Linked DNA regions of Homo sapiens. The protein of the gene in region 6 purifies or fractionates together with the protein of the main gene of each other region. This does not show direct contact. Each region holds a gene or a part of one and is shown on either strand. Other genes may lie near its edges.

What was found.
Region 1: the proteins of TOR1AIP2 (region 6) and TUBGCP4 purify together in Homo sapiens (affinity purification with mass spectrometry; 2 studies listed by BioGRID and IntAct, with this or other methods). This does not show direct contact.
Region 2: the proteins of TOR1AIP2 (region 6) and SLC25A14 purify together in Homo sapiens (affinity purification with mass spectrometry; 2 studies listed by BioGRID and IntAct, with this or other methods). This does not show direct contact.
Region 3: the proteins of TOR1AIP2 (region 6) and POMGNT1 purify together in Homo sapiens (co-immunoprecipitation; 3 studies listed by BioGRID and IntAct, with this or other methods). This does not show direct contact.
Region 4: the proteins of TOR1AIP2 (region 6) and RBM15 purify together in Homo sapiens (affinity purification with mass spectrometry; 2 studies listed by BioGRID and IntAct, with this or other methods). This does not show direct contact.
Region 5: the proteins of TOR1AIP2 (region 6) and CUL4A purify together in Homo sapiens (affinity purification with mass spectrometry; 4 studies listed by BioGRID, with this or other methods). This does not show direct contact.
Region 7: the proteins of TOR1AIP2 (region 6) and SLC16A10 purify together in Homo sapiens (affinity purification with mass spectrometry; 2 studies listed by BioGRID and IntAct, with this or other methods). This does not show direct contact.

The regions. Positions count from the first base shown.
Region 1 is NC_000015.10:43,395,101-43,398,600, reverse strand, and holds part of TUBGCP4 (gamma-tubulin complex component 4), read right to left. Parts: intron 3,495-3,500; coding exon 3,444-3,494; intron 3,019-3,443; coding exon 2,913-3,018; intron 1,388-2,912; coding exon 1,280-1,387; intron 564-1,279; coding exon of another isoform or gene 561-563; coding exon 422-560; intron 1-421. UniProt on the Homo sapiens protein: Component of the gamma-tubulin ring complex (gTuRC) which mediates microtubule nucleation.
Region 2 is NC_000023.11:130,363,919-130,367,418, forward strand, and holds part of SLC25A14 (brain mitochondrial carrier protein 1 isoform 1 precursor), read left to right. Parts: intron 1-709; coding exon 710-834; exon of another isoform or gene 835-1,622; coding exon 1,623-1,758; intron 1,759-3,500. UniProt on the Homo sapiens protein: Transports inorganic anions (sulfate, sulfite, thiosulfate and phosphate) and, to a lesser extent, a variety of dicarboxylates (e.g. malonate, malate and citramalate) and, even more so, aspartate and glutamate and tricarboxylates.
Region 3 is NC_000001.11:46,195,635-46,199,731, forward strand, and holds the start of POMGNT1 (protein O-linked-mannose beta-1,2-N-acetylglucosaminyltransferase 1), read right to left. Parts: upstream 2,801-4,097; 5' UTR 2,702-2,800; exon of another isoform or gene 2,417-2,701; intron 2,238-2,416; 5' UTR 2,188-2,237; coding exon 2,068-2,187; intron 1,916-2,067; exon of another isoform or gene 1,728-1,915; coding exon of another isoform or gene 1,674-1,727; intron 1,451-1,673; coding exon 1,336-1,450; intron 1,216-1,335; coding exon 1,097-1,215; intron 856-1,096; exon of another isoform or gene 667-855; coding exon of another isoform or gene 568-666; intron 444-567; coding exon 378-443; intron 291-377; coding exon 177-290; intron 1-176. Other genes in the region: TSPAN1 (tetraspanin-1), read left to right, coding at 568-666. UniProt on the Homo sapiens protein: Participates in O-mannosyl glycosylation by catalyzing the addition of N-acetylglucosamine to O-linked mannose on glycoproteins.
Region 4 is NC_000001.11:110,342,377-110,344,776, reverse strand, and holds part of RBM15 (RNA-binding protein 15), read right to left. Parts: intron 1-2,400. UniProt on the Homo sapiens protein: RNA-binding protein that acts as a key regulator of N6-methyladenosine (m6A) methylation of RNAs, thereby regulating different processes, such as hematopoietic cell homeostasis, alternative splicing of mRNAs and X chromosome inactivation mediated by Xist RNA.
Region 5 is NC_000013.11:113,240,613-113,244,112, reverse strand, and holds part of CUL4A (cullin-4A), read right to left. Parts: intron 1,146-3,500; coding exon 953-1,145; intron 1-952. UniProt on the Homo sapiens protein: Core component of multiple cullin-RING-based E3 ubiquitin-protein ligase complexes which mediate the ubiquitination of target proteins. As a scaffold protein may contribute to catalysis through positioning of the substrate and the ubiquitin-conjugating enzyme.
Region 6 is NC_000001.11:179,850,304-179,853,803, reverse strand, and holds part of TOR1AIP2 (torsin-1A-interacting protein 2), read left to right. Parts: intron 1-992; 5' UTR 993-1,138; coding exon 1,139-1,172; intron 1,173-2,440; coding exon 2,441-2,959; intron 2,960-3,500. UniProt on the Homo sapiens protein: Required for endoplasmic reticulum integrity. Regulates the distribution of TOR1A between the endoplasmic reticulum and the nuclear envelope as well as induces TOR1A, TOR1B and TOR3A ATPase activity.
Region 7 is NC_000006.12:111,094,003-111,097,502, forward strand, and holds part of SLC16A10 (monocarboxylate transporter 10), read left to right. Parts: intron 1-3,500. UniProt on the Homo sapiens protein: Sodium- and proton-independent thyroid hormones and aromatic acids transporter.

The DNA.
Region 1 (3,500 bases), on a different chromosome or scaffold from region 6:
AACAAACTGCTTATTATTTGGCAATTTAAAAAAATGATGGTTTGAAGTAGATATGCCCTCCCACTGATTCCAACTCCGTGTCTCATATCTGTGGCTTCACTTATTAATGTGATCAGTCTAGCCCCTGAAGGCATAAGGGTTTACAATTTTTGATTTACAGATTGTTAAAAACTAGTTGGGTGGCTCTCTTGCTCCCATTAATTTTTTTTTTTTTTTTTATGAGATGGGGGTCTTACTATGTTGCCCAGGATGGATTTGAAATCCTGGGCTTAAGGGATCCTCCTGCTCAGGCTCTGGACTAGCTGGGATTACAGGTGTGTGCCACCACACCTTGCTTTCCCACTAATTCTGTTCCTGCTAGTTTCTTCCCTTACAAGTAAGGTGGGTCATATTTACCTGTGAGAAACTCAGAAATACTCACTTTTCCAGGACAGCTGGGGTGAAGAGAATATGTAGTGGCCACTGTACTTTGTAGGAAAGACCTAGGGCTGCCCAGCCAGATGCAGGGGCTTCCCGGGGAGAAGTTTCCCGAGAAGGCCCTTCTCTTGCCTGAGTAGCATCTGCTGTGATAAAAGAAAAGAAAAAAAGAAAAGATAACAACTTGGTTAATCTAGAACCAGAGACTCAACAAGTGAATAACATTAATGAAACTAGAGCTCACAGGAGTTCAAGACCAGTCTGGGCAATACAGTGAAACCCCATCTCTACTAAAAATACATAAATTAGCTGGGCATGGTGGCACGCACTTGTAGTCCCAGCTACTCAGGGGGGCTGAGGCATGAGAATTGTTTGAACCTGGAAGGCAGAGGTTGTAGTGAGCCAAGATTGTGCCACTGCACTCCAGCCTGGTCAACAGAGTGAGACTCTGTCTCCAAAAGAAAAGCAACAGAGCTCAATGGAGTCTGCGATGTCAGAAGCTTACAGGGGACACTAAGAAGGGGGCAAGGAAACTTCTATGTGAGGTTCTCTTGGGAGGTCTTCTAGAGATTCTTTCCTCAGCCTTAAAATCTGGGGGCTGGAAATAAACAGGCACCATTCCAGCAGCATGACAAAAAAAAACACCAAAAAAACCAACTCCCCCAAAACATGGCCTGGGCATCTCACTTAGCCTCTCTGGACTTCTGGACTTTCCTTTTCTTCTCTATAGAATTATAGTACTGTACTAGCTGATTTCTAAGATCCAAAATCATATGGTTTCTGTGGCGGGGGATGGAAGCAGAGATGGGAAAATGGATGATGACCAGCAGGAACTCTAAGGTGGCAGGGAGGAATGGCAAACCTTTGTGCTCCTTTCCGTGATACTCGATTGTCAAGTGCAACAGAGGGAGAAGGTTGTCATCATCTAGCAATACCTTGTGTGCTGACTGTTGAAAGGCCACATTCACATCTGCAAGAAAGAACACGCAGGCTGACAGGGACGCTTGGCTACATAACAAACCCAGACTCCTCCAGCTTTCCACTTCTCCCCCAACATGCTCAATGCTAACAGCAGGACACAGTGGACATCTGTTTCATTTGTCTAACACCCATCCATCCTTCTCTTCTTGCTGACAAACTGCCTCTTGATTTTCCTTGGAGAATCATCCCTATTCAGTACAGTTCACATATTTCCAGTGGGTTAGTGCTAGACAACACCTGATTCTAGGGGTAGCTGGGTGATGTAGGCATGATCAAATGGAATGTAATACTCTACTTTGTTATGCTATATTGTTTAGGGATATTAACATGACCAAGCCAGGCCAATCCAGAGGCTCTATTCAGACTCTAAAAGAGTCCAGCTCTTTTTTCAAGATAAACAGGGGCTTAGTAGGATGTAAACTTGGCTAGAGACTATCTTGCTACCATACAGAGCAGGCCTGTCTGAGAAGAAAGAGGTAGAAGATGGAAAGAGACCAAGTCCTAAAGGTGCCACACCTGTCACTGGATCAAACTTAGCCGAAAACCATCATACGTCTGAGCTTTTCAGTTATGAGAATCAATACATTATTTCTTTCCTTTTGCTTTGCTTAAGTGAGTTTGAATTGGATTTTCTGATATTTGCAACCACAAGTACTTATATTTGTACTATATAAGTACAGTGGACATCTATGGTTTTACTGAGTTAGAAAAATGATCAGCCTGTGTGTATGTATTTTCTTTCTCACAGTTTCTTTTTTTGGATCCTTACCCAACTCTACTCATGCAGTATGAATGGGAATGGACATCAGTGGGTCAAGGGGTAGACTCTTCACTGAACTAGGCATAGCCTAGTGTCTGACCTCTTTGACTGATACAGGGATAGGGATGTGATGTGGGCTGGGCCAATCAAAACCTAGATAATTCCCTAGAATTCTCTAACTTGCAACAAGAGGGACTGGGTTCAGTTCCTTCCGTAGAGGACACTGTGAGGCATATTCCTGGGAGATGCTGTGATCATGTTTCCAGAAGGTCATCAAAGTGTTCACAAGAGACACAAACAAGATGTGGTGAATGAGTGAATGAGAGAGAGAGAGAATGAATCGAAGTTTTCCCACTGGGGTTTTAGATACAATAGCAAATCCATTTCCCTTTCCTAACTAGGCTAGTTCGGGTGAGTTTCCATCATTCACACCTAAAGAATTCTACTGCAAAACTACAAGCAGCACTAAGTCCCAATATGGCCCATAAAGTATATATGGCTATAATCCAATGAGAAAAAATACCTGGTTTGAAGGCCTGAACCAACTCTTCCAGGAAGGGTCACAGGCCAAGACACTGTTCCCAATGACCCCAGCATGAAGCCTACCTGCAAGAGCCTTCCATCTCTGGAAGCCACTGCTCTGTAACTCATCAGGCTGCTCTTATGTGGAGCAGGCCTTAAAAGGGTCAGCAGCAGCCAAGAAATACCCTGCAATGTCAATCAGTTGATCATTCTCAGGGCCACTGACAATTACCATGCTCAGTTACTGCAGTGGGTGGTGTTTTCAACATGTGTTGAGCTGTGTCAATGAAGGCCTGAAACAGTTCTCCACGTCCCAGAAGGTAAAAGTCTTTAATGATCTGAGGAAAGAATTTCAATTTACAATTCAGTAAAGCAAGGCAGGAGCTCCTCACTGTCCTGAGGAATTACATGTATACAGTAATTTCTAATTTCATCAATTTGAGCCCAAGCTACAAAAGATACAGGCATTTGGCATTTCAAAGAGGCATACTTAGTTCCGCATAGCAGGATGACTGGTGTGTATTTGGCATTATTTATTCAATAGCAACATAATTATATATATATGCCAGAAAAAAGTACACTCCCAAATCTTTGTATTATCGTAGATTTGTGGCATTAGGTATAGTTTGCTCACTTGGATAAGAACAAATGAGTTGACTCTGGAAGTCTGGGTATAGGCAACCAGTGCTCTCAGGAAACATCAGAGAATGCAAGTCACTGCCTACCAGCATCACCGTAAGAATTACAACAGCTAAGCCATTACCTTCAGCTGACCCAGTAAATCGGATTCTTCTACCATCAACTTCCAGAGATGCTATGA
Region 2 (3,500 bases), on a different chromosome or scaffold from region 6:
GAGATAGAGTCTTACTGTATTGCCCAGGTTTGTCTAGAACTCCTCCTCAAGTGATCCTCCTGCCTCACCCTCTCAAAGTGCTGGGATTACAGGCATGAGCCCCTGTGCCTGGCCTTCTTTTACTTAAAAGAAAAATCGTTATAGCCATCCTAGTAGGTATGAAGTGGTATGTCCTTGTGGTTTTGATTTGCATTTCTCTAGTGACTAATGATGTTTAGCATCTTTTCGTGTGCTTATTGGCCATTTGTGTATCTTTTTTGAAGGAAATATCTTCAGGTCTTTTGGCCATTTTAAAATTGGATTGTTTGCCTTTTTTGTTGTAAGAGTTATTTATATATTCTTGACACTAGTCCCTTATCAGATATATGAGCGGCAAATGTTTTTTTCCTTTGTGTATGTTGACTCTTCACTTTCTGAGTGGTGTCTTTTGAGTCATAAAAGTTTTTAATTGTGATGAAGTCCAGTTGATCTTTTTTTTTTCTTTTGTCTTTTGTGCTTTGGGTGTCATATCAATTATTTTATTTTTAGTATAGCAAGTGAATTGGAAATTTGTATATGTTCCATTATTAGTCATTGATTTGAAAGAGTGACGTCTGTACTTCAGACTTGTATTTTTCTGTTACTTTTCAACTCCTGACCTATTTTGTTCACTCTAAGACATCACTCCCTTTGTATTTCCTTGGTGCCTAATGTCACTTGTGTTTCGTAGGGTGTGGTTCCAACTGCTCAGCGTGCTGCCATCGTTGTAGGAGTAGAGCTACCAGTCTATGATATTACTAAGAAGCATTTAATATTGTCAGGAATGATGGGCGATACAATTTTAACTCACTTCGTGTAAGTAGGATGGGATGTGCTCATTTTATTTCCAGCATTTTGAGCACAAAAAGCCTCTTTTACTGAAATCCTCAGGTGGAATTTGATAACTGGTACGTATGGCCTAAATTCCCTTGTCTCTCCTATTATCAGAACTTCAAGCCTTATGAACACTTTATACTTCACAGAAATGCCAGGTGCTATGGGGGCTTGGGTACTTGGGAACATTGTCTAATACAGCAGCCTATCAGAGGTCTATTTGATTTACATTTATCCATACATAGCTTCTATATCTAATAAGCACATCTATTATTTGCTTTGGTTAATTTTGTTTGAGAAAGCAAACTTTTCTCAGTGGGAATCAGAAAAAAAGGGGTAAATAAGGTCTGTGAAACTAAAGCACAGTTTTTTGGCTAAAGACTGTTACTGATCTCATTTTACATTTTCTTTGTCTTGCAACCTTTATGATAATTTTGTTACTCAAATGCATTTGGCATGTGATGCTGTGGTTTGAAAAATTTATGTAACTAATACATGGTGCATGATACTTTCTACTTAGGAATCTTGTTAGGTTTAGAAACTCTCCTTTAAAAAAAAGGCTGAGTTTCAGATTGAAAATTGAAGGGACAGCCTTTGAATGATGTCTCTTTAGAAAAATTTCCTGTCTCTTTAGATTGTAACGAAAGGCCAAGTGCCAGGTTTTATCTGATGGGTCTGAGTTATATTGTACAGTTTACGTTTGGCCTAATTTCTGTTTAAGTGGGCAGGGAGTGAAAGTGGGGTCGATCTACTTAAACTTTTCCTCTTAGTTCCAGCTTTACATGTGGTTTGGCTGGGGCTCTGGCCTCCAACCCGGTTGATGTGGTTCGAACTCGCATGATGAACCAGAGGGCAATCGTGGGACATGTGGATCTCTATAAGGGCACTGTTGATGGTATTTTAAAGGTAAGTACATTGTGGATTTGGGTTACAATTTGGCTTTCTTTGATGTCTTAGACCTTCCTTCAGTTCTTATTATTAGTTGCTACATACCATTTTGAAGATGAAAGAATCATATTTTTTTAGTAGCTTCTCAGTTATTCCCAGGTAGAAAAGCTGTCTCCTTAGCAATCTGCTAATTTGCAGTGGTACTTAATATAATGATTCCCATTTGAATGCTTTAAAATACAGGATGCTTTTATTAATAGTATCATGTAGAATTATTGATAGAAAAGACAATATATCCCCCATTTGCCTACTTCATACAACACAGAGACCCTGCAATAGAAAACTCAATACTTAAGGAAAAAAGCCTGTATTTTATTTCAGTTCACGGTTATGCTGTTGTTCACTTTGGCTTTGAAAGTTCCTGCTGTTGTGTTTGTGGGAACTGAATATTCTAAAAGTATTACATCATTACTGGTGATATTATTGCTACTGAAAACAAATTGAGGCTAAAATATGATGTTGCCATATGGTTTCTCTCCTGTTATCAGTTTTGTTTAACAACTATTACATATTAGACACCATTTTAGTAGTTAGAGAGAAATTACAGTTATTACAAAAGTACTATAGGTATACAAACGGATCATCAGTACAGCCTGATAAGTGATAAACTCAAGAGTTCTCAATTTGGAAGCATTGAGGTAGGCTCCCTGTAGATGGTGGCATCTTGAATAACAATAACTCATATCCACTGAGTGCTTTTTTGTGTGTCAGCAACTGTCCTTATGAGACTTATGTGTATTCGTTCATTGAATCCTCACCATTACTCCACGAGGTAGACACTGAAGCACTGAAAGATTAAGTAAGCTGCCTAAGGTTTCACAGCTACTAAGTGGGAGAACTGGAATTTAAACTCAGATCACTTGACCTCAAACTGACATTTACCTCTCCACTATGGTGCTTTCCTCATATTGGTGGCCAAGGGTTAGATTATAAAGGATACTGAATGCTATATTGAGGTGCTTGGACTTTTTTTTAACTTGTCAGGGAGCTGTTGAAAGTTTTTAATCAGATTAGCTTTGCATTTTAAATAGATTACTTTGGCTTTATGGAGACTGGATCTACCACAGTGGTTCCTCATCTTGGGTACACATTGGAATCACTTGGGAGAACTTTCGCAGCTCCCTCCTCTACCTTAGACCAATTAACTCAGAACCTGGGGAGTAAGGTCCAGGTGTCAATATTTTAAACTATATCAGGTGACTGCAATGTTCACCTAAGGTTGAAGACTACTAAGGGGATAAGCCTGGAGCCATGGTTCTTCAAAGTTTAACATGCATCAGAATTACCTGGAGGGCTTGTTAAACTGCAGTTCACTTGGAGCCATCTCCAGATTCTGATTTAGTAAGTATGGAGTGGGACCTGGAAATTTGCATTTTTAATAAATTCCCAGGCAATACTGATGTTGCTAGTCTGGAGACCACACTTGGAGAACCACTGACCTACAGATAGGGAAGCTGATTAGAAGGCTCTTGTAATCTGAGAAAGAGGGGATGAAGGCCTGAACTTGAGCATGATAATGGAGATATAGAAGGTGGGACAGAGTCAAGAAAGAATTAGTTGATAGAGTCAGCAGGATTTGATTGACTGGATGTGGAGGGGTGTGGGAGAAAAGAGGTGTCAAAGATAAGTTCTGGGTTTTTGGAGTTGGTGACCAGGTGGTGACATTCATTGACAGAGGCATCACAAGAGGAGCACGTCTT
Region 3 (4,097 bases), about 130 Mb from region 6:
CTGTTGCTCAATAACTATTTGCTGAATTAATACAAATGTTAAGGCTGAGATTGGAACCTGAGTAACCTTCCTTCAGAGAATCTTCCCACTATGTTATATGAGGGGCAGAGAAGCCGGGGCTAGAAGCAGGGTTGGAGCTAGGGAGTAGGGGTCAGGGTCAGGACAGAATAACTGACCTTGACAGTGCAGATGAGCACTCGGCCGGGCGCTACCATGTTGAGGAATAGCACCATGGCCTCATCCTCATGAGGTGAGTACGTGTCAAACACACGTTTTGCCATCACGTGGCCCTGGCAGGGGATATACTTCTGGTGAGTTGGTGTCATCAGCAAGAGCCCAGCTCCAGCCCTCTGGGTCACCCACCCCTAGAAACTCACCGTGGCCTGGTTGAGGACAATGACATGGATGCCCCGGCCCTGCTCCCGGGCCTCATCCTCCAGCACCTACACAGTGGCAGAGACAAAGTCCAGCTTTTCACTCTGGCATTCAAGGTGTCTCTGTCTTAGGGGTACTTAAAACACCAGCTGCTTGAAACATCACCTCCTGCCTATGTTTCTGTTCACACAGTTCTTTTCCAACTCAGCTCGAAGGCCACCTCTTCCAGAAAGCCTCTATAGCACTCCCATCAGAAGAGATCACGTCTTTCTACAACCCTCCCCTCCATGACTTTCATGGCTCTTAGAGCCTCTGCTGTCTCTGCTTCATCCTGGAAGTATCACAATCCTCCACCACACTGAACCCCTCAAGGTAGGGCCAGGTCTGATTACTTTCAGGTCCCCAGTGCCCAGCACAAGGCTGAGGCCAAAGAAAGGACCAGGGGATGGTTATAAAATAAATCAATGAATTGACTGCCTACTATTATGAATGATTACTTTTGAGATCCCACTACATACAAGACACTTCACAAACTTTTCATTGAATCCTGACAAGTAGAAATCATTAGTCCCAGTCTATAGATAAGGAATCGAGGACTCCAAAGTCACACAGCTAGAAACTGGCAGAGTTGCAGTTCCCACTTAGGCAGTAGACCCTGCTGCCAGTGGACCATGCCCTGAGCAGAATAGAGTGACTGTACACCAGACCCTGGCCCACTGACCGTGGTGCCATCCACTGCCACATATACTTTGCTGCGACTTGAATACACCTCTACGTCCAGGACCCGCCGGGGACCACTGCCTCTGCGCCGTGGGGGCTCCAGGCGGCCTAGGGCCTCATCTGTGGGGTACAACAGGTCATGGAGATAGTCTCCTCAGCAGAGTCTCACCGCTTAGGGTCTGCCTGCCACTCCAGCTGTGAGATCCAAGGCCCCCTACCCCATCCTTAGCCTAGCCCTACCATAGTCTTGCTCTGGCTCTGGGTCTTCATTGGCTTCACTGATGGCTCGCCGAGTGTCCAGGATCAACTTGATATTGACAATGACAGTCACCAGCAGGAAAAGCACGGCCCCTGTCTGAGGGGAGGGGTAGGGATGATTAAGAGGAGCACCTCCTTCAGATCCTAGAGGGTCTTTCTGAAAGGAGGGCCCTGGCTGCAGTGAAGACATCCAGAGAAACTGGGTCCTGTCCCTTCCTCTGTCTGCCTAGCTCTACTCCCCTGACCAGGGCCTAGTTTCACAGCCACTTTCCCCAGGGAACCTCCCCTGACACTTCCCCCTCCATTAGGGCCCTCCCTACCCAGTGCTCCTGTATTCTTCTATTTGAGACCTTGATTTCCTTGGTCCCCTCCATTGTTGGTTTCTAGAGATGGAGCCAGGCCCAGGGACCCAAGCGGGGGATCAGACCTGGGTCCTGGCCCTAACTGCCTCACAGGGGTGTGCCTCTCTGCAAAGCCAGCCTGATCAGACTTCAGGCTTCCGTCAGAAGCTTAGAAGTTGTACTTGGGTTCCGATTCCAGAACTTTGGGTTCAAATCATTACCTATAGGGACATGACACATAGAGGTCTCCCCTCTAGGAACCTGCTGCCCCTTTCCCACTGGGGCTGGCCAACAGGGGTCCCAGTGCCTGATTTAGGTGGGGAGGAAGCTGGGAGGGAGCGCTCGGTGGGGAGGGTTTGGGACATCTCTATACCTGACAGAATCTCCGCAGGGCCCGCTGGTTTGTCAGTTTATACTTCCAGGTAAGGTACCAGCTCCGCTTCTTCCGAGCCCCAAAGGGCTTGATGAGGGGGCTGGGCTTCCAGTCGTCCATACCGGATTGGCGGGTCACCAATGTCCTGGCCAGCCCATGACTTCAGGAATCTGAAGGGACCAGAGGGCCACATGGGGTAAGATGCTCCTCCCAAAGTCTGATGCCTTCTGGGGAGATGAGGGAGGACCTCCCAGCAACTCTTCCCTGCAAGCACCCATACTGTGTGACATGGGGAAAGTGGCTCAACTTCTCTGGGCTGGCAGGAAACCCTTCAGTGGGGTTGGATCACCTGGAAATTCCCTGAGACTGGAGTAACTCTCTGAATCAAGGCTGTCCAAGGGTGGAGGCCAAATAATCGGCTCAAAGTTCGTTAGCCCCTACAAGGACCAAGTTCCAGGCCTTCCCAAGCCTGTGGTGAGCAAAGAGCGACCTCTCCTGCCCCAGTCTTCAACCCTCGTCCCATCCTATCTGCCCCAGCTTCTCTCCTCCTCCCAGGGCCCGGAGCCGCCCGAGGGCTCAGGAGACCTGCACCGGCAGCGCTACCCGTTCCGGACACCCACGCGGAGGCACTCACGGCTTAGGGGCCCCGGGCCCCGCTCGGGCCCCGCTAGGGCCCTCACTGCTCGGCCCGGCTCGCCGCGGCCTCCGCCTCCTCCATGCCGCTTGCGGCCCCGCCCCGGCCTGGCCCGCCCCCCCGCTTCCGCCGCCGCCGCCGCCGCCGCTGCCGCGGGGTGAGAGGGCGACGGGCGGTGCTTAGGGCGGCGGCGGCGGCGGCGGCGGTGGCGGCAGCGGCGTCGGGGTGTAAGCAGCCAGCGAGTAAGGCGAATGCTCAGACCGTGCTAGGCAGCTTCGCAGCCCGGCTGGCTGGTGGGGCTGCCTGCACGAGAGCAGCCCGCTCCCCAGCACCGCCGATGGCAAGCCCGACTCCAGTCAGAGGCCTAGCACCTTGGACCAGATCACAGGGCACGCCAGGGTCAGAGGGGCTGCAACCCTTGGACACAGGGCACACACCACCCGCCCCATACCCGTCCTGGGCAAGGCCGTTACCTAGTCCTGGGGCATGCACAGCTATTGGAGGCCAAGGGAGATTAAAATCCAGGTTCTGTCACTGTTCTAAGCACCTTACTGATGATGTTTAATTCCACAACAACCCCATGAGGTAGGCGCTATTATCATTATTATTGTTTTTTTTTTAATTGAGACGGAGTCTCGCTCTGTCGCCCAGGCTGGAGTGCAGTGGCACCATCTCGGCTCGCTGCAACCTCCGCCTTCTGGGTTCAAGCGATTCTCCTGCCTCAGCCTCCTGAGTAGCTGGGACTACGGTCGTGCGCCACCACACCCAGCTAATTTTTATATTTTTAGTAGAGACGGGGTTTCACCATGTTGGCCAGGCTGGTCTTGAACTTCTGACCTCAAGTGATCCGCCCGCCTTGGCCTCCCAAAGTGCTGGGATTATGGGCAGTGAGCCACCGTGCTGGCTATAGGCGCTATTACTATCCCTGTCGCAGATAAAGAAATAAGACCTAATATCACAAAGCTAGGAGAGGTGGAATTGAAACTCAGCCTAGCTCCAGATTCTGCTCTTAACCACTGCACTCTGCTGGCAACAATACATAAGAATTGCCAGGTTTAAATAACATCATACATAGAAAGCAGTTAGCTTAACACAATGGTTCTCAAACTTTAGCTTGCGTCAGAATCACCTGGATGACTTCTTAAAACAGAGGTGCTGGGCCCCATCCCTAGAGTTTTAGATTCAGTGGTCTGGGGCAGGGTGGGATTTTGCATTCCTGAGAAGTTTCTAGGTGATGTTGATGCTTGTTTGAAGTGGATAGCCATAGAACAGTTTTAGGCAGGGGAGCAATATAATCCAATTTCTGTTTTAAGAGAACCTTTACTTTTTTTGTGGAGAATGGGTTGGAAGCAGACAGAGGAAGCCAGAAGACCAGTTAGATTTTTTTGAGCTTTCT
Region 4 (2,400 bases), about 70 Mb from region 6:
CAACGTTGGGATTATTAAATCCTGGCTAATGAGAAGTAGAACCGGTTTTAGACTTTTGCTTTCATTTGAATTCTTAAGGTTTAACTAGATACTTTATGGATATTATGAACCTGCACAAAAGAATGGGCAGTACAAATATGAGGTTCATGTGGACTATGGCACTCTGTAGGTAATGACCAACTAAACATAATTAGTTTTTTATAATACATACATTTAGAAATGGTATCAAGCCATTGTTTCAAAAACACTGAAGCACAAATTGCCCAGACCTAACAAAAGCGGCAATGTCAGGTAAAGATTCAAACAAACATGGAGCAAAAACACAGTACTCTTCTGTACGCTGTCACACTAACAAAAAACAAAAAACAAACAAAAAAAAAGAAAGTAAAAGAAAAGAAATAAAACACACATTTTGGATGACAGTAAAATTAGATGTCATGGACTTCACTCTCCAAAAGAGCAAAATCATTTGTCCAACTATCTCAACAAAAGATATTCAAAAATTAATGGTTAGTGAGTTTATTTAAACTGGAAAAATGTAGCTGGCCACAAATTATACTATGAGCCCACGTATGTAGACTCCACACTTGCATTAGTTTCTGAACAGGTGTCTACTCCAAACCAACCACAGCTTTTTGAAAGCAAGAAGCATCAAAAGTCTTCATTATAGGATTTCAGGTATTTTCCCAAGAGGCACAAGGACCTTCATGCTCATAGCCTAGAACCTTCCTTCTCTCAAAATGGCTAGTTTTTCCAGTTTAAAAACAAACAAACAAAAACCCCCACAAAACCTGCAAACTTAAAAAATTATAGATGCATAGTGAAAACCAAGAGGGATGACACAGCAGTGATGACACTTTTGTGCTGACATGCATTAGACACCTGTCATAATGGAAAATAAAAATTACATGACATTTCCCTGGGTTATTATTGGTGCTATTTCAAAACTACCAGCTTTGATAACAGAAAGAAAACAGTTGGGTTCTGCCAGGCTTCAAGTTAAGTCACTTTCATAGAACAGAAACATGACCATGATCCAGAAGGTCCAAAAGTCTCTAATCATAATTAAATATCAAGGGCCTTAGCTGAAGTCTTCAGCACTTAAATCAAGGGAGAAAAATATACTTACTAATGACCTGACAAATTAGGGGTGGGACAGAGGGGATAGATTAAAAAAAAAAAATCCATTACTGTTAAGCAGCAAAAGTCCTTGTTGAGAACCAGAGGTTGATATCATCTCACCTTTGAAAAAAAAAAAACTGTGAGGCTAAGTTAAATGATCCTGTATTAATTCCGGGTGTCTGGGAAAATAAAACAATTAAAAAAGGTTTTCCTACACTGACATTTCAATTCCGTAGCTGGACAGCAGTGAGAATATTGAACATAAAATTTCCAAGATGTTCAAAACATTTTCAATAATGTAATGTCACTACTGTTTAAATATGAAAATAAAAAGACAAGCAAAATTTTAAAAGAGCATGTCAAAGGCATTTTATGATGACTTTTTAAGAAATTCTGCAATCCAAATATGGCTGATTTAAATGCCCACTGAAATAAAAGATGACTATGAGCCTGCAGACAACTCTTCTTTCTATTATTGAAACCAGAAATTTGAATTGATACAAAAACAAAAACTCATCTTTGATGAAGAACACTTAGTTTCGAAATATGCACGATTAGAACTGTACCTGCTACACCTCTCTGAAAAAGTCAGTAAAAACACCACCACACACCAATAACTGACCAAAGAATTCTGATTTTAAAAGCACCTACTCACTTCTTGCATACTAGTGTAAGCATAAGACATATATGGTTTGTAACATAGTCCTTAATTTTTACTGAACAGTTACTGCTACAAACCAAAAGTGCATATATGGGATACAGAACTCTAGAACAAATGATTTAAAAAATGCATGTTAAAGCAAACTCTCTGGGAATAAACTGTATCTTAAGAAATACTCAAATACCTGATTAAAATAATTACATTGCTATACAATTTACCAGCATATCTTTGAGATCCCTGATCAAATTTCAGTCACACACATTTCTGGTAAAAGAATTATTTACCTACACACCAATCGAGTCATTTTTAGGTGGCTATTACTCTCTTTATATGGTCAGTGGACTCCTTTCTCCAAATTCTGACTTTTCAAAATTTTGGTTTTGTAACTCTGAGGATTTTTTAAGCTCAAGATTAAAAAAAAAACAACTGAATAGAGAAAAAAAATTACTCATAAGGGTGGGAACTCCTAATTAAAGCAAATCTGTCTGCCTGCCTGCTACCTTTAGGGCATCCCTTTCACTTAAAATAATAGCTAAACAAACAAAAAAATAGCTAAACTGTCCTGATTTCTATTTTAAAGACGTTTATAAAAATATAAAAAAGAAAATGCTACAACT
Region 5 (3,500 bases), on a different chromosome or scaffold from region 6:
TTCAGGACGTGACTGCCCCGGACGCTGGAGTGCCTATTTCTAGGATCTGGTGTCATGAATGCAGAGGAGACATTCTCAAAGAGAAAGACTTTCTCAGAGCATCCAAGGTGGCAACGCAGGGTGAAAGCATTTCTACTCGGGCTTCCTGTTTCTGAGGCTGCACAAGCCATCGTCAGGTGGCTTGGGAGGGAGGACCAAAGTCCCCATGTGATGGGAGAACCCAAGACTTCCAGAAGCCCAAACTCCCAAGAGCTCAACATCCCTTTGCTTTAGAGAAACCACAAATGATACAGAGGAACAAAAGCCAAAGTAAACTGCCTCCTGAATTCCTTCTGTTGCTGTTTTTGTTAGTTTTTTTCTTTTAAACATTTTGTAATGGAATATTCTGAACACACAGAAAAGCAGACAATTGCACAATGAGCTCCATGTTCCATCTTACATCTTCAGCAGTAATCAACAGTCAATCTAGTATCGTCGTATTTCAGCTCTCTTTGCCCCCTTTCTCCTTCGAATTAAAAAAAAAATTTTACTGACTAGAGAAAGCCTATGAATTCTGAAATATATTTTGATATTATTGTGAAAAAATTGTACAGCTTAAAAATAGTATTATCATTTGAGATCTCATCTGGTTTTATCCTATTTTAATATGGATTAGAGGATACAAAGATGGTGATCACCCCTCCCTTCTTTGGCGAAGTCAAGCATCATTTCTTTTCTAAATTCTTACCTCATCTTCCCTTATGGAAATGCCCTCCTCCACCCATGCATGCAGGTGTGTCGGTTTTTAAATTTGTGTCCTAATAAGACTTGATAAAAACGCTTTCCACACACCCCTTGAGCAGCTTGAACATTTTGGTTGATTTTGCCTTATTTTCCCATATTAAAAAATTGTCTAGAAATGGGTGAGACTGTCTCAAAAACAAACAAACAAAAAAAACAAATATTTTTCTACCGATCAGTTCTGCAGGCTTGTTGGGTCTCTTGTTGATGAACGTCTCAAAGGACTCCTTCATCAGGTTGACGAACCGCTCATTCTTCTGGAAGCAGACCTCGATCACGTGGTCCACCTTGTCCTTGAAGTCCAACAGGTCTTGGACCATGTCTTTGTCTTTCTCAGGATTGATTACGATCGCTGTTCCAAAAGTCTACAAAAGCAAATCAATACCAACTCAGCAACATGTTTACAATAGCAAACAGTATCTTCTCCTGCTATCATATAATCAGGATAGTTTAACATAAATTACTCTTAGTAGTAAATACTCAATAACTTTAAAAGTTTCACAAATTGAATTCACATTTCAAAAATTAAGTGAATACACTTTTTTTTGAGGCAGGCCCTCACTCTGCGGCCGAGGCTGGAGTGCGGTGGTGCAATCACGGTTCACTGCAGCCTCAACCTCCCAAGCTCAAGCAATCCTCCCACCTCAGCCTCCTGAGTAGCTGGTGCTACAGGCTCAGGCCACCACATCTGGCCCATCTTTTTAAAGTTTTGTAGAGACGGGGTCATGTTGCCCAGGCTGGTCTCGAACTCCTGGCCTCAAGCAATCCTCCCACTGTGATTTCCCAAAGTGCTGGGTTTACAGGCATGAGCCCCTGTGCTTGGTGTGAATATACAATTAAATACACAATTAATGCATTGGTCTTACGATTCTGTTTCTGAGAGAACTTACAAACGACTGGAAAATGTCCGTTGCTTTTTAAAGAATGTTTATGTGTAAGTTCCTCCAAGACAAGTTAATTCCTATTAATTCAATATACCTCTTGGGACTTCTTGGCTAGTTTTCCTTCTCCATCACTTCTAACCATGAAAAGCTCACTTTTTTAGTTTGTACTTTTTTTTTTTTGTTTTGAGATGGACTCTCGCTTTGTCACCAGGCTGGAGTGCAGTGGCGTGATCTCGGCTCACTGCAACCTCCGCCTCCCATGTAGCTGGGACTACAGGTGCACACCACCACGCCCAGCTAGAGACGGGGTTTCACCATGTTGGCCAGGATGGTCTTGATCTCTTGACTTCATGATCTGCCTGCCTTGGCCTCCCAAAGTGGTGGGATTACAAGCGTGAGCCACTGTGCCTAGCCTAGTTTGTATTTTTAATTTAAAACTGTTATATTAAACATTCCTAAAAGTCTGTGTAGGGCACTAATAAACAGTTAACATTTGATGATATAAACTATATATGCCGAAGAGGAACTGAATACAATGATTGGATTTAAAAAATTCGTCTCAATAGAATGCACATGTGCACTCACACATCACACACACACGCGAGGTAGCTGGCTGGTGGAAAGATGCCAAGAGAAGGCTGGGCGCAGTGGCTCACGCTTGTAATCCCAGCACTTTGGGAGGCTAAGGCGGGTGGATCACAAGGTCTGGAGTTCCAAGACCAGCTTGGACAATATGGTGAAACCCCATCTCTACTAAAAATACAAAAATTGGCCAGGTGTGGTGGCGGGAGCCTGTAATCCCAGCTACTCAGGAGGCTGAGGCAGGGAACTGCTTGAACCCAGGAGGCAGAGGTTGCAGTGAGCTGAGATCACGCCACTACACTCCAGCCTGGATGACAGAGTGAGACTCCACCTCAAAAAAAAAAAAAAAAAAAAAGATGCCAACAGAAAGGGCACAGACTCTCCCAGAGAGGGGCGGTGTGTGGCTAGCAGGTGTGGGAGGGACTTACCTCTTACTCTACACCCTTTGGTGCTAACTGCATTTTGAAATAATGCACATACACTACAAGGCCCAGCTTTATTTTGATAACGGCATGTGGAGTTGAATATAAACTACTATTTTGTTACAGTATAACTACTTATTGCTGACACTCAGGGGTGATGGTCACTCACTGATTTTTATTACCCAGACTGGAAACTGCAAAGGTGAACTTTTCCTAGTTTTTAGCACACATTCCCATCCCCTGAAGACTGTCTCACTGGCAAAAAACCTAAATCTTCAGTAGCTTTATGGCCAATTTAGTGTGACTCAGTTATAAGTTCCAATTCTATCATTGTACGAGACCTTGTGGGGAGGGGTGCTGTGAGTGCTGGCTTTCCACAGCTGGACTGATACATGACTTCAGGTCTGATTATTCCATAAAGCAGCATGTAAGCTTTATCTTTTTTATTTAACGGAAATCTTTATTCAGATAATGACAGATTTGCATAATAGTAAAAATAGCAAAGCAATCCCAGTGTCTTTATTTCCACAGTTTCCTCCAATGGCAACGGTTTGCGAAACTACACAACAGTGTCTCAGCTGGGGTACTGACATGGCAGCGCACCCGTCTTTTTCACATGGCCCAGTTTACTCGTAACTCATCTGGGTGTGCACATCTAGACCTCGGCCGAAACCCCGACTGTTCCCGCAGAAGGCTACCTCCTGGGGCCTTTTATAACCACACACCCTGCCCCATCCCTACACCCTGGTAACTTTTCATCTATCCTCCATTTCTAAATTTTGTCATTTCCAAAATGTTATGCAATAACACGTTAAGTATCTGTGATTGGCTT
Region 6 (3,500 bases):
TACATTCATTTATTTTTTCATAAGCTTTTAAGTTAAAATATGGAGTTCTTACTATACACTAGGCACCGTGTAGGCATTGGGGATCAAAGTTTTTAATGTGTAAATTTAAATTTTACAAAAGAGTACTGAGAAAAACATAAAGACGGCCAGTTGGCTAGCCTTCCAGCTAGGCTGTCAAAAAACTATAACACTTCACACAGGTTTTTCTTATATATTTTTGTATTTAAGCCTCATAGATATCATTATTCTCATTTTCATAGGGAATAAATATTAAGTAACTTTATTGATCAATTTGTTTTTGACAAAAAAAAGAACTATAAAATATGACTGTTTTTATTGCTTATAAAGTGCCTTTGATTTTGATTCCTTTTGTGTAAACCTTAATAATTTTCTTTGTCTGTCTTTGAGCATTGCATAAAAAGGCATTGTATAAAGGAATATCTGTCTCCATATTTTACAAAAGAATACTTCGAGAAAACCACTTCAAAGTCAGTCCAAATGTGTAGTGGTACACCTCAAAGCAGCCATCTCAGTTTGTGGGAACCTCCTGTGCATTGTTACTTTTTAATATAAGTGAAAGCTCCTGATAGGCAGACTATGAGAAAATTATCTGGGACAGAAATTGAAGACATCCAGGAAATCTGCAGTGATTGTTTCAGCAATGACTTAAATTTCTACTCTTAGATTTATTTTTTATTTTAATTCAAGCTAGTCTGTTGAAGATTCTGGTCACTTGATCTTACTTTTTATACTCTTTCAACTATGCTGGAATATATTAGATTATGAAATTCATGAAAGATTAATAATCTGGAGCTTTTTTCAGTAGTCTAGGATTTGGAATATGATTCTCATGAAAGGAAATTTTCTTCACGAAAAAAGTTTCACAGAGGAAATAGTACTCAAGCTACACATATTTAATAAATAAAGCTGATACTTGCATTTCTCCCTTGTATGGATAAAAAGTCATTTAATTTTTTTTCATTTTGTTTTAGTCACTGTATATATGCCTTATTTCCTGGGTCCATGGGAAGCATGAGTCTGTTGGGACTTGGGACAAGAAGAAAACAAGACATCTTCACAAGGAAAACCAAGTACTAAAAAAAGTATCCTCCCAACTCTGAAGAGATAGAACACAAACATGGCCGACAGTGGACTTAGGGAACCTCAAGAGGGTAAGACTGATTTGTCTGGCACTGAGGTTGCTGCTGTAGGAAACCAGGGGTGTGCAGAGAGAGAAAATCTCTGATGACTAAAATCTGAGGTTTTGAAGTAAAAAAGCTAATTCAGTGGGTTCATTTGTTTTGATTATACTTATTCTTTCAAATTTACTGAATTTTACTATAATGCGAGACCCTAATTATAATATAAGGAAGATAAATGTTTTAGAGACTCCAATAGTAAGGACTTATAGTAATGGAAAAATACAATGCTTCTTTAAAAAATGATGGTAGACAAATCTTTAGAGTTATATATATCCTGTGATGTGCTATATTTAGAAGGTATCTTTCTTCTTCCTCTTCTTCTCCTTTTTTTTTTTTTTATGTTACCCAGGCTGGAGTGCAGTGGCGTGATCTCAGCTCACTGCAACCTCCGCCTCCCGGGCTCGAGTGATTCTCATGCTTCAGCCTCCAGAATAGCTGAGATTACAGGCGCCTGCCACCACACCCAGTGAATTTTTGTATTTTTAGTAGAGACGGGGTTTCACCATGTTGCCAGGCTGGTCTTGAACTCCTGACCTCAGGTGATTCACCTGCCTTGGCCTCCCAAAGTGCTGGGATTACATGCATGAGCCACCACATCTGGCCATTCTTACTTTTATTAAAGAAACAAAGTCTTTTGGAATTTCCCACGTGCTGGGTTTTGCTGATTATATTCTTGAGGCATAATTTAATGTATTCCTGTATCCCTATATTTCTTGGAAACTGGTTGCTCTAGAAACTTACCAGATTTAAGTTTAGTTGTTTGGCAAAAATACTTCCCAAGTGGTCTAGAGTACTTCTTACTGCATTGTATTAGAAAGTAAATGATATCTGTTTGGGTTTCCCTGTTTTCATGATGTGAAGATTGGTCGCTGGGTTCAGCAGTTGTCAGTCTGGCTCATCCACTATAAAAGTCCCTATCAGCCTTTTGCATAAGGTTTTGCTACCATTGATGAGCATTGCCTTTCATTAGGGAAGAGGATATATTTAATATAGCCAAAAGTTTGTTCTGTCATATAATTTGTTTTATATTAGTGTCATTTTATATTTATTAACATGATAAGATTTTTTTTGTTGTTGTTTTAATTGCCTTTAGTGGGAGCCAAGAGAAATAATGTTTAGGAAGTGTCTTGTAAACCATGAAAATCTATGTAAATATTATTATTAAACAGGGACCTTGTTAAAATATAAATTTATGGGGAATTTTTTCCAATAAAAATTATAAACTTTTATCTCAATAGACTCTCAAAAGGATTTGGAAAATGATCCATCAGTAAATTCTCAGGCGCAGGAGACCACAATCATAGCAAGTAATGCTGAAGAAGCTGAGATCCTACACTCTGCCTGTGGTCTTAGCAAAGACCACCAAGAGGTAGAGACAGAAGGTCCAGAAAGTGCAGATACAGGTGATAAATCAGAAAGTCCAGATGAAGCAAATGTGGGGAAACATCCAAAGGATAAAACAGAAGATGAGAACAAGCAGAGTTTTCTGGATGGCGGAAAAGGGCATCACCTCCCTTCAGAAAATCTGGGTAAAGAACCCTTGGATCCAGATCCCAGCCATTCTCCAAGTGACAAGGTAGGAAGAGCAGATGCACACTTAGGGAGCAGCTCTGTGGCCCTCCCTAAGGAAGCGAGTGACGGAACTGGAGCATCTCAGGAACCACCTACTACAGACTCCCAGGAGGCCCAGAGTCCTGGTCATTCCAGTGCAGGGCAAGAGGGTGAGGATACACTGAGGAGGCGACTGCTGGCCCCAGGTAAGAGAACCCCCTGAACTACTCTCCTGTTTTGTACTGCTCTGTTAACTGAGAACACAGCAGAAGTCAGAGGCCTTCTTTCCAGAGAACTTTTGTCATCTTTCATAGGAGTAAGGCCTTTGGGCCTTGCCCAAGCTCACACCAAGCCATGACTGAGTTGATTTTAGAATGAGGTTTCTCATCTAGGCTAGCTCATTCCACTATATTAAGTTGCTTCCTACACATAAACTGCATTTCTAAGCATGTTTTTATTAACTGTTTATATTAATGTGATATGACAAAAAGGGGCATGACTTTTAAAAAATTCGCTTCTGGTTTTTTATTTCTTATGAGAATATTTCGACTTACAATTTTTAAAATCTTTTACTTTTTGGGAAACTAAATGTTACATAAATCAAGAGATGGGTATATTTAAAAATGAGCATTAATGGGACAGTATCCTTAACTCAGTCATGTTTCAGTTTTATAGGACTTTGAGTAAGACAGTTAGTTTCTCTATACGTGGTTTTTTCTGCCTATATGTTAAGAGGAACAAGCATGT
Region 7 (3,500 bases), on a different chromosome or scaffold from region 6:
TGAGATTCCTGTGGTGTTTTTTCATGGAATTAAAAATTAATAATTTCAATAAAATTAACTGCTGAAAGAACCCAATTAGCCAAAATGAAAAGCATAACACATTTTTTCAGGAGCGATTTTGAGGTGTCTTTTAGAATAAATTGTACTCTGCTTTTGATGTGATTTGCTACATCTTTTTGTTGCAGTTCCTTGAGGCTCAGCCCCTGGCCATATACTTGCTTCACTTTTCCTGCTTTCTTCCATCCACTGTCTTGGGGCTGTTATTTCCAAATCTCATCACTGTGTTCAAGACTTATTTACTATTTCTGGACAGTTCCATTTGGGTACACAGGTACATCATACTAAACTAACATGAACTCATTTTTCAGCTACACCATACAACCTTCCCTTACTACCAAAAATGACAGCCCATTTGTCGGCATTCTTCTGAATCCATATTCCTCCTTCTTAATTCTCTGTGCATGATACCTCTGGTTGTTTAAGTCAGAAACCTGGAATGTATCTTAGCTTCTTATTTCTCTTCCTTCCTTACCTGTTTTGTTAAATCAGAGTTCTTTTGTGTTTACCTTCTTAATGCCTCATAAATCAGTCCCACTTTTCTTTCACTACTGTGTCTTAATTCATGCCTTCATTTACTTTTTATTTTATTTTTTGGGATAGGGCCTCACTGTGTTCCCCAGGCTGGAGTGCAGTGGCATGATCATAGCTCACTGCAGCCTCAAACTTCTAAGCTCAAGCAATCCTCCTATCTCAGCTTTTTGAGTAGCTGCAACACCAGGCACATGCCACCATGGCCGGCTAATTAAAAAAAATTTTTATGTGGAGATGGCATCTTGCTATTTTGCTCAGCCTTGTCTTGAACTCCTGGCCTCAAGCGACCCTCCTGCCTCAACTTCCCAAAGTGTTGGGACTACAGGCGGGACCTACTGTGCCTGGCCACCTTCATTACTATTGGCAACAATTAGTCATAACCCCTTAACAGGATTGCTTGTCCTCAGTTGTACATCTGAGTGATTTTTCTAAAAGATTGGACCATATGATTTTTCTGTTTAAATGCCCAGTGACACTCATTACTTTTAGGAAAATGTCAAACTCCCTACTCCGAAGGCCTGCAAGCTCTGGCCCTTGCCTGGCCCTCTAGCCTTGCCCCTGCTTCTCTCCCTTACTGGTCTTTGTGTTCTAGCCAACCTGTAGGTGTTACACTGGCCCAAATTTGTCTTGCTGCTTTTTGCCTCTGTACCTTTGTGTGTGCCACTCCTGTCTTCAGTGCGATGGTTGGTCCTTGTGAGATTCTGATGAAATGGTTGGCCATTTTATTCTTATGTCACAATCCTGGGACACAAACAGTGATTTTATGCAATTGTTATGTATTTGATGCACTTGGAATATTGGGGGTAGCTACATTTTGGAGTTTTGAGAACGAATTCAAATAAGTTACAAATTATGTTTAAAGTGGTAGACAGAGAACCTGATTTCAACCTATTCTAATAAAGCATTCCGTGAAAGCCATTTTAAAGATGATCCATATTTGTTAAAGTGGTAATTTTTATATTCTCTGATATGGTTTGGCTGTGTTCCCACCCAAATCTCATCTTGAATTGTAGCTCCCATAATCCACACTTGTCATGGGAGGGAGGTAATTACCTGGTGGGAGGTAATTGAATCATGGGGGCAGGTTTTCCTGTGCTGTTCTTGTGATAGTTAATAAGTCTCATGAGATCTGATGGTTTATAAAGGGCAGTTCCCCTGCACACTTTCTGTTGCCTGTTGCCATGTAAGACATGCCTTTGCTCCTCTTTCACCTTCCACCATGATTGTGAGGCCTCCCTAGCCATGTGGAACTGTGAGTCCATTAAACCTCTTTTTCTTTATAAATTACCCAGCCTCAGATATTTCTTCATAACACTATGAAAATGGAGTAATACATTCCATTACCATAAAGAAAAGGCTTTCATGTACATTATTTTTTAGAGTAGCCTTGTGGTATGTCATTACCTCCATGGATAGATAAGAAAGTTGCAACTTGCACAGTATTAGGATTGATATCAGTATTTACTTTTATTAAGTTGAACTTAAGAGCAGCTTTTTGGCTGGAAAAAAGTTGTACTTATGTCAAAGTTGTCCTGAAAGTAGAATCCTACTCCTGTCCCCAGCCTGAAACTATTTACTACATATTTACTTGCATGTTCTTTAGAATATTCTCTCAATAGTGTCTCCTACTCAAGTCATCAGAAATGCTGTGATGTCATTTTTGGAAAAGAATTCCAGAGTTATCACCGCCTAGCTAGAAATCTGGTCTTATATTCAAATTAAACAAGCAAACCTTAACAAAAACAAGCTAAACCCTAAACATAACATGAACAGTCAGCTCACCACAGTTCTGAGCACCTGCCTTGGCCTGGTGCCACCCACGCAGGGACTGTGGATGTTTTTATTGGCAGAGATTCAGAACAGGAAACTCCAGCACACCTGGGAACTGCGCAGACCCACCACATAAGACAGATAGCCTATCAGTGGCTGGAGGAATGGAGGAAAGCAGTGCTTTCAAATGTACATGCCAAATGTGTATGATCATACCTCTTTGTTAAAGTGCCTTCTTTAACAGCAAAAGTAATTCCTCACCTTGCATATAGGAACTAAAAAAAAGTCGATGAAGAAATGGCTTGCCTTATTTTCAAGTAAGAAGTCTTTTTTCATTTCACTAATTTTTAATTATGGGCATAAGTATGAAATACAGATTAGAAATACTGAATGTGGACCAAAGCAATGTTTCCTTTGTGGACCAAAGCAGTGAATCTTTTTTCTTTCTTTCTTTCTTTTCTTTTTTTTGTTAAGAGACAGGGTCTTGCTCTCTTGCTCAGACTGGAGTGCAGTCAGTGATGTGATGGCTCACCATAACCTCAACCTCTTGGGCTCAAGGGATCCTCCTGCCCCAACCTCCTGAACAGCTGGGATTACAGGCACATACCACCACACCTGGCTAATTTTTAAAAATTTTTTTGTGGGGGAGGGTCTCTCTATATTGCCCAAGCTGGTTTCAAATGCCTGAGCTCAAGTGATCCTCCAACCTCAGGCTCCCAGAGTGTTGGGATTACAGGTTTGAGCCACTGTGCCTGGCCCCAAAACAGTGTTTGTAACTCCCTTTGTCCCCTCTTGATAAACATAAAAGTCTCATGGTACTTCAGAATTTTGTTGCACACATCCAAGTGTAGTTTGCCTTTCCTTGTGAGTGGCAGAAGACAATGTCATACTCTGTATTTATCCATCAGCCAAAATTTTGTCAAGCTTTACTTTTATTTTTTAAATTTTTATTTGTATTTTTTTTTGGAGACAGAGTCTTGCTCTGTCGCCCAGGCTGGAGTGCAGTGGCGTGATCTCGGCTCACTGCAACCTCCGATGCCTGGGTTCAAGCGATTTTCGTGTCCCAGCCTCCAGAGCAGCTGGGACTACAGGCACGCACCACCATGCCTGGCTAATTTTTTTGTATTTTTAGTAGAGGT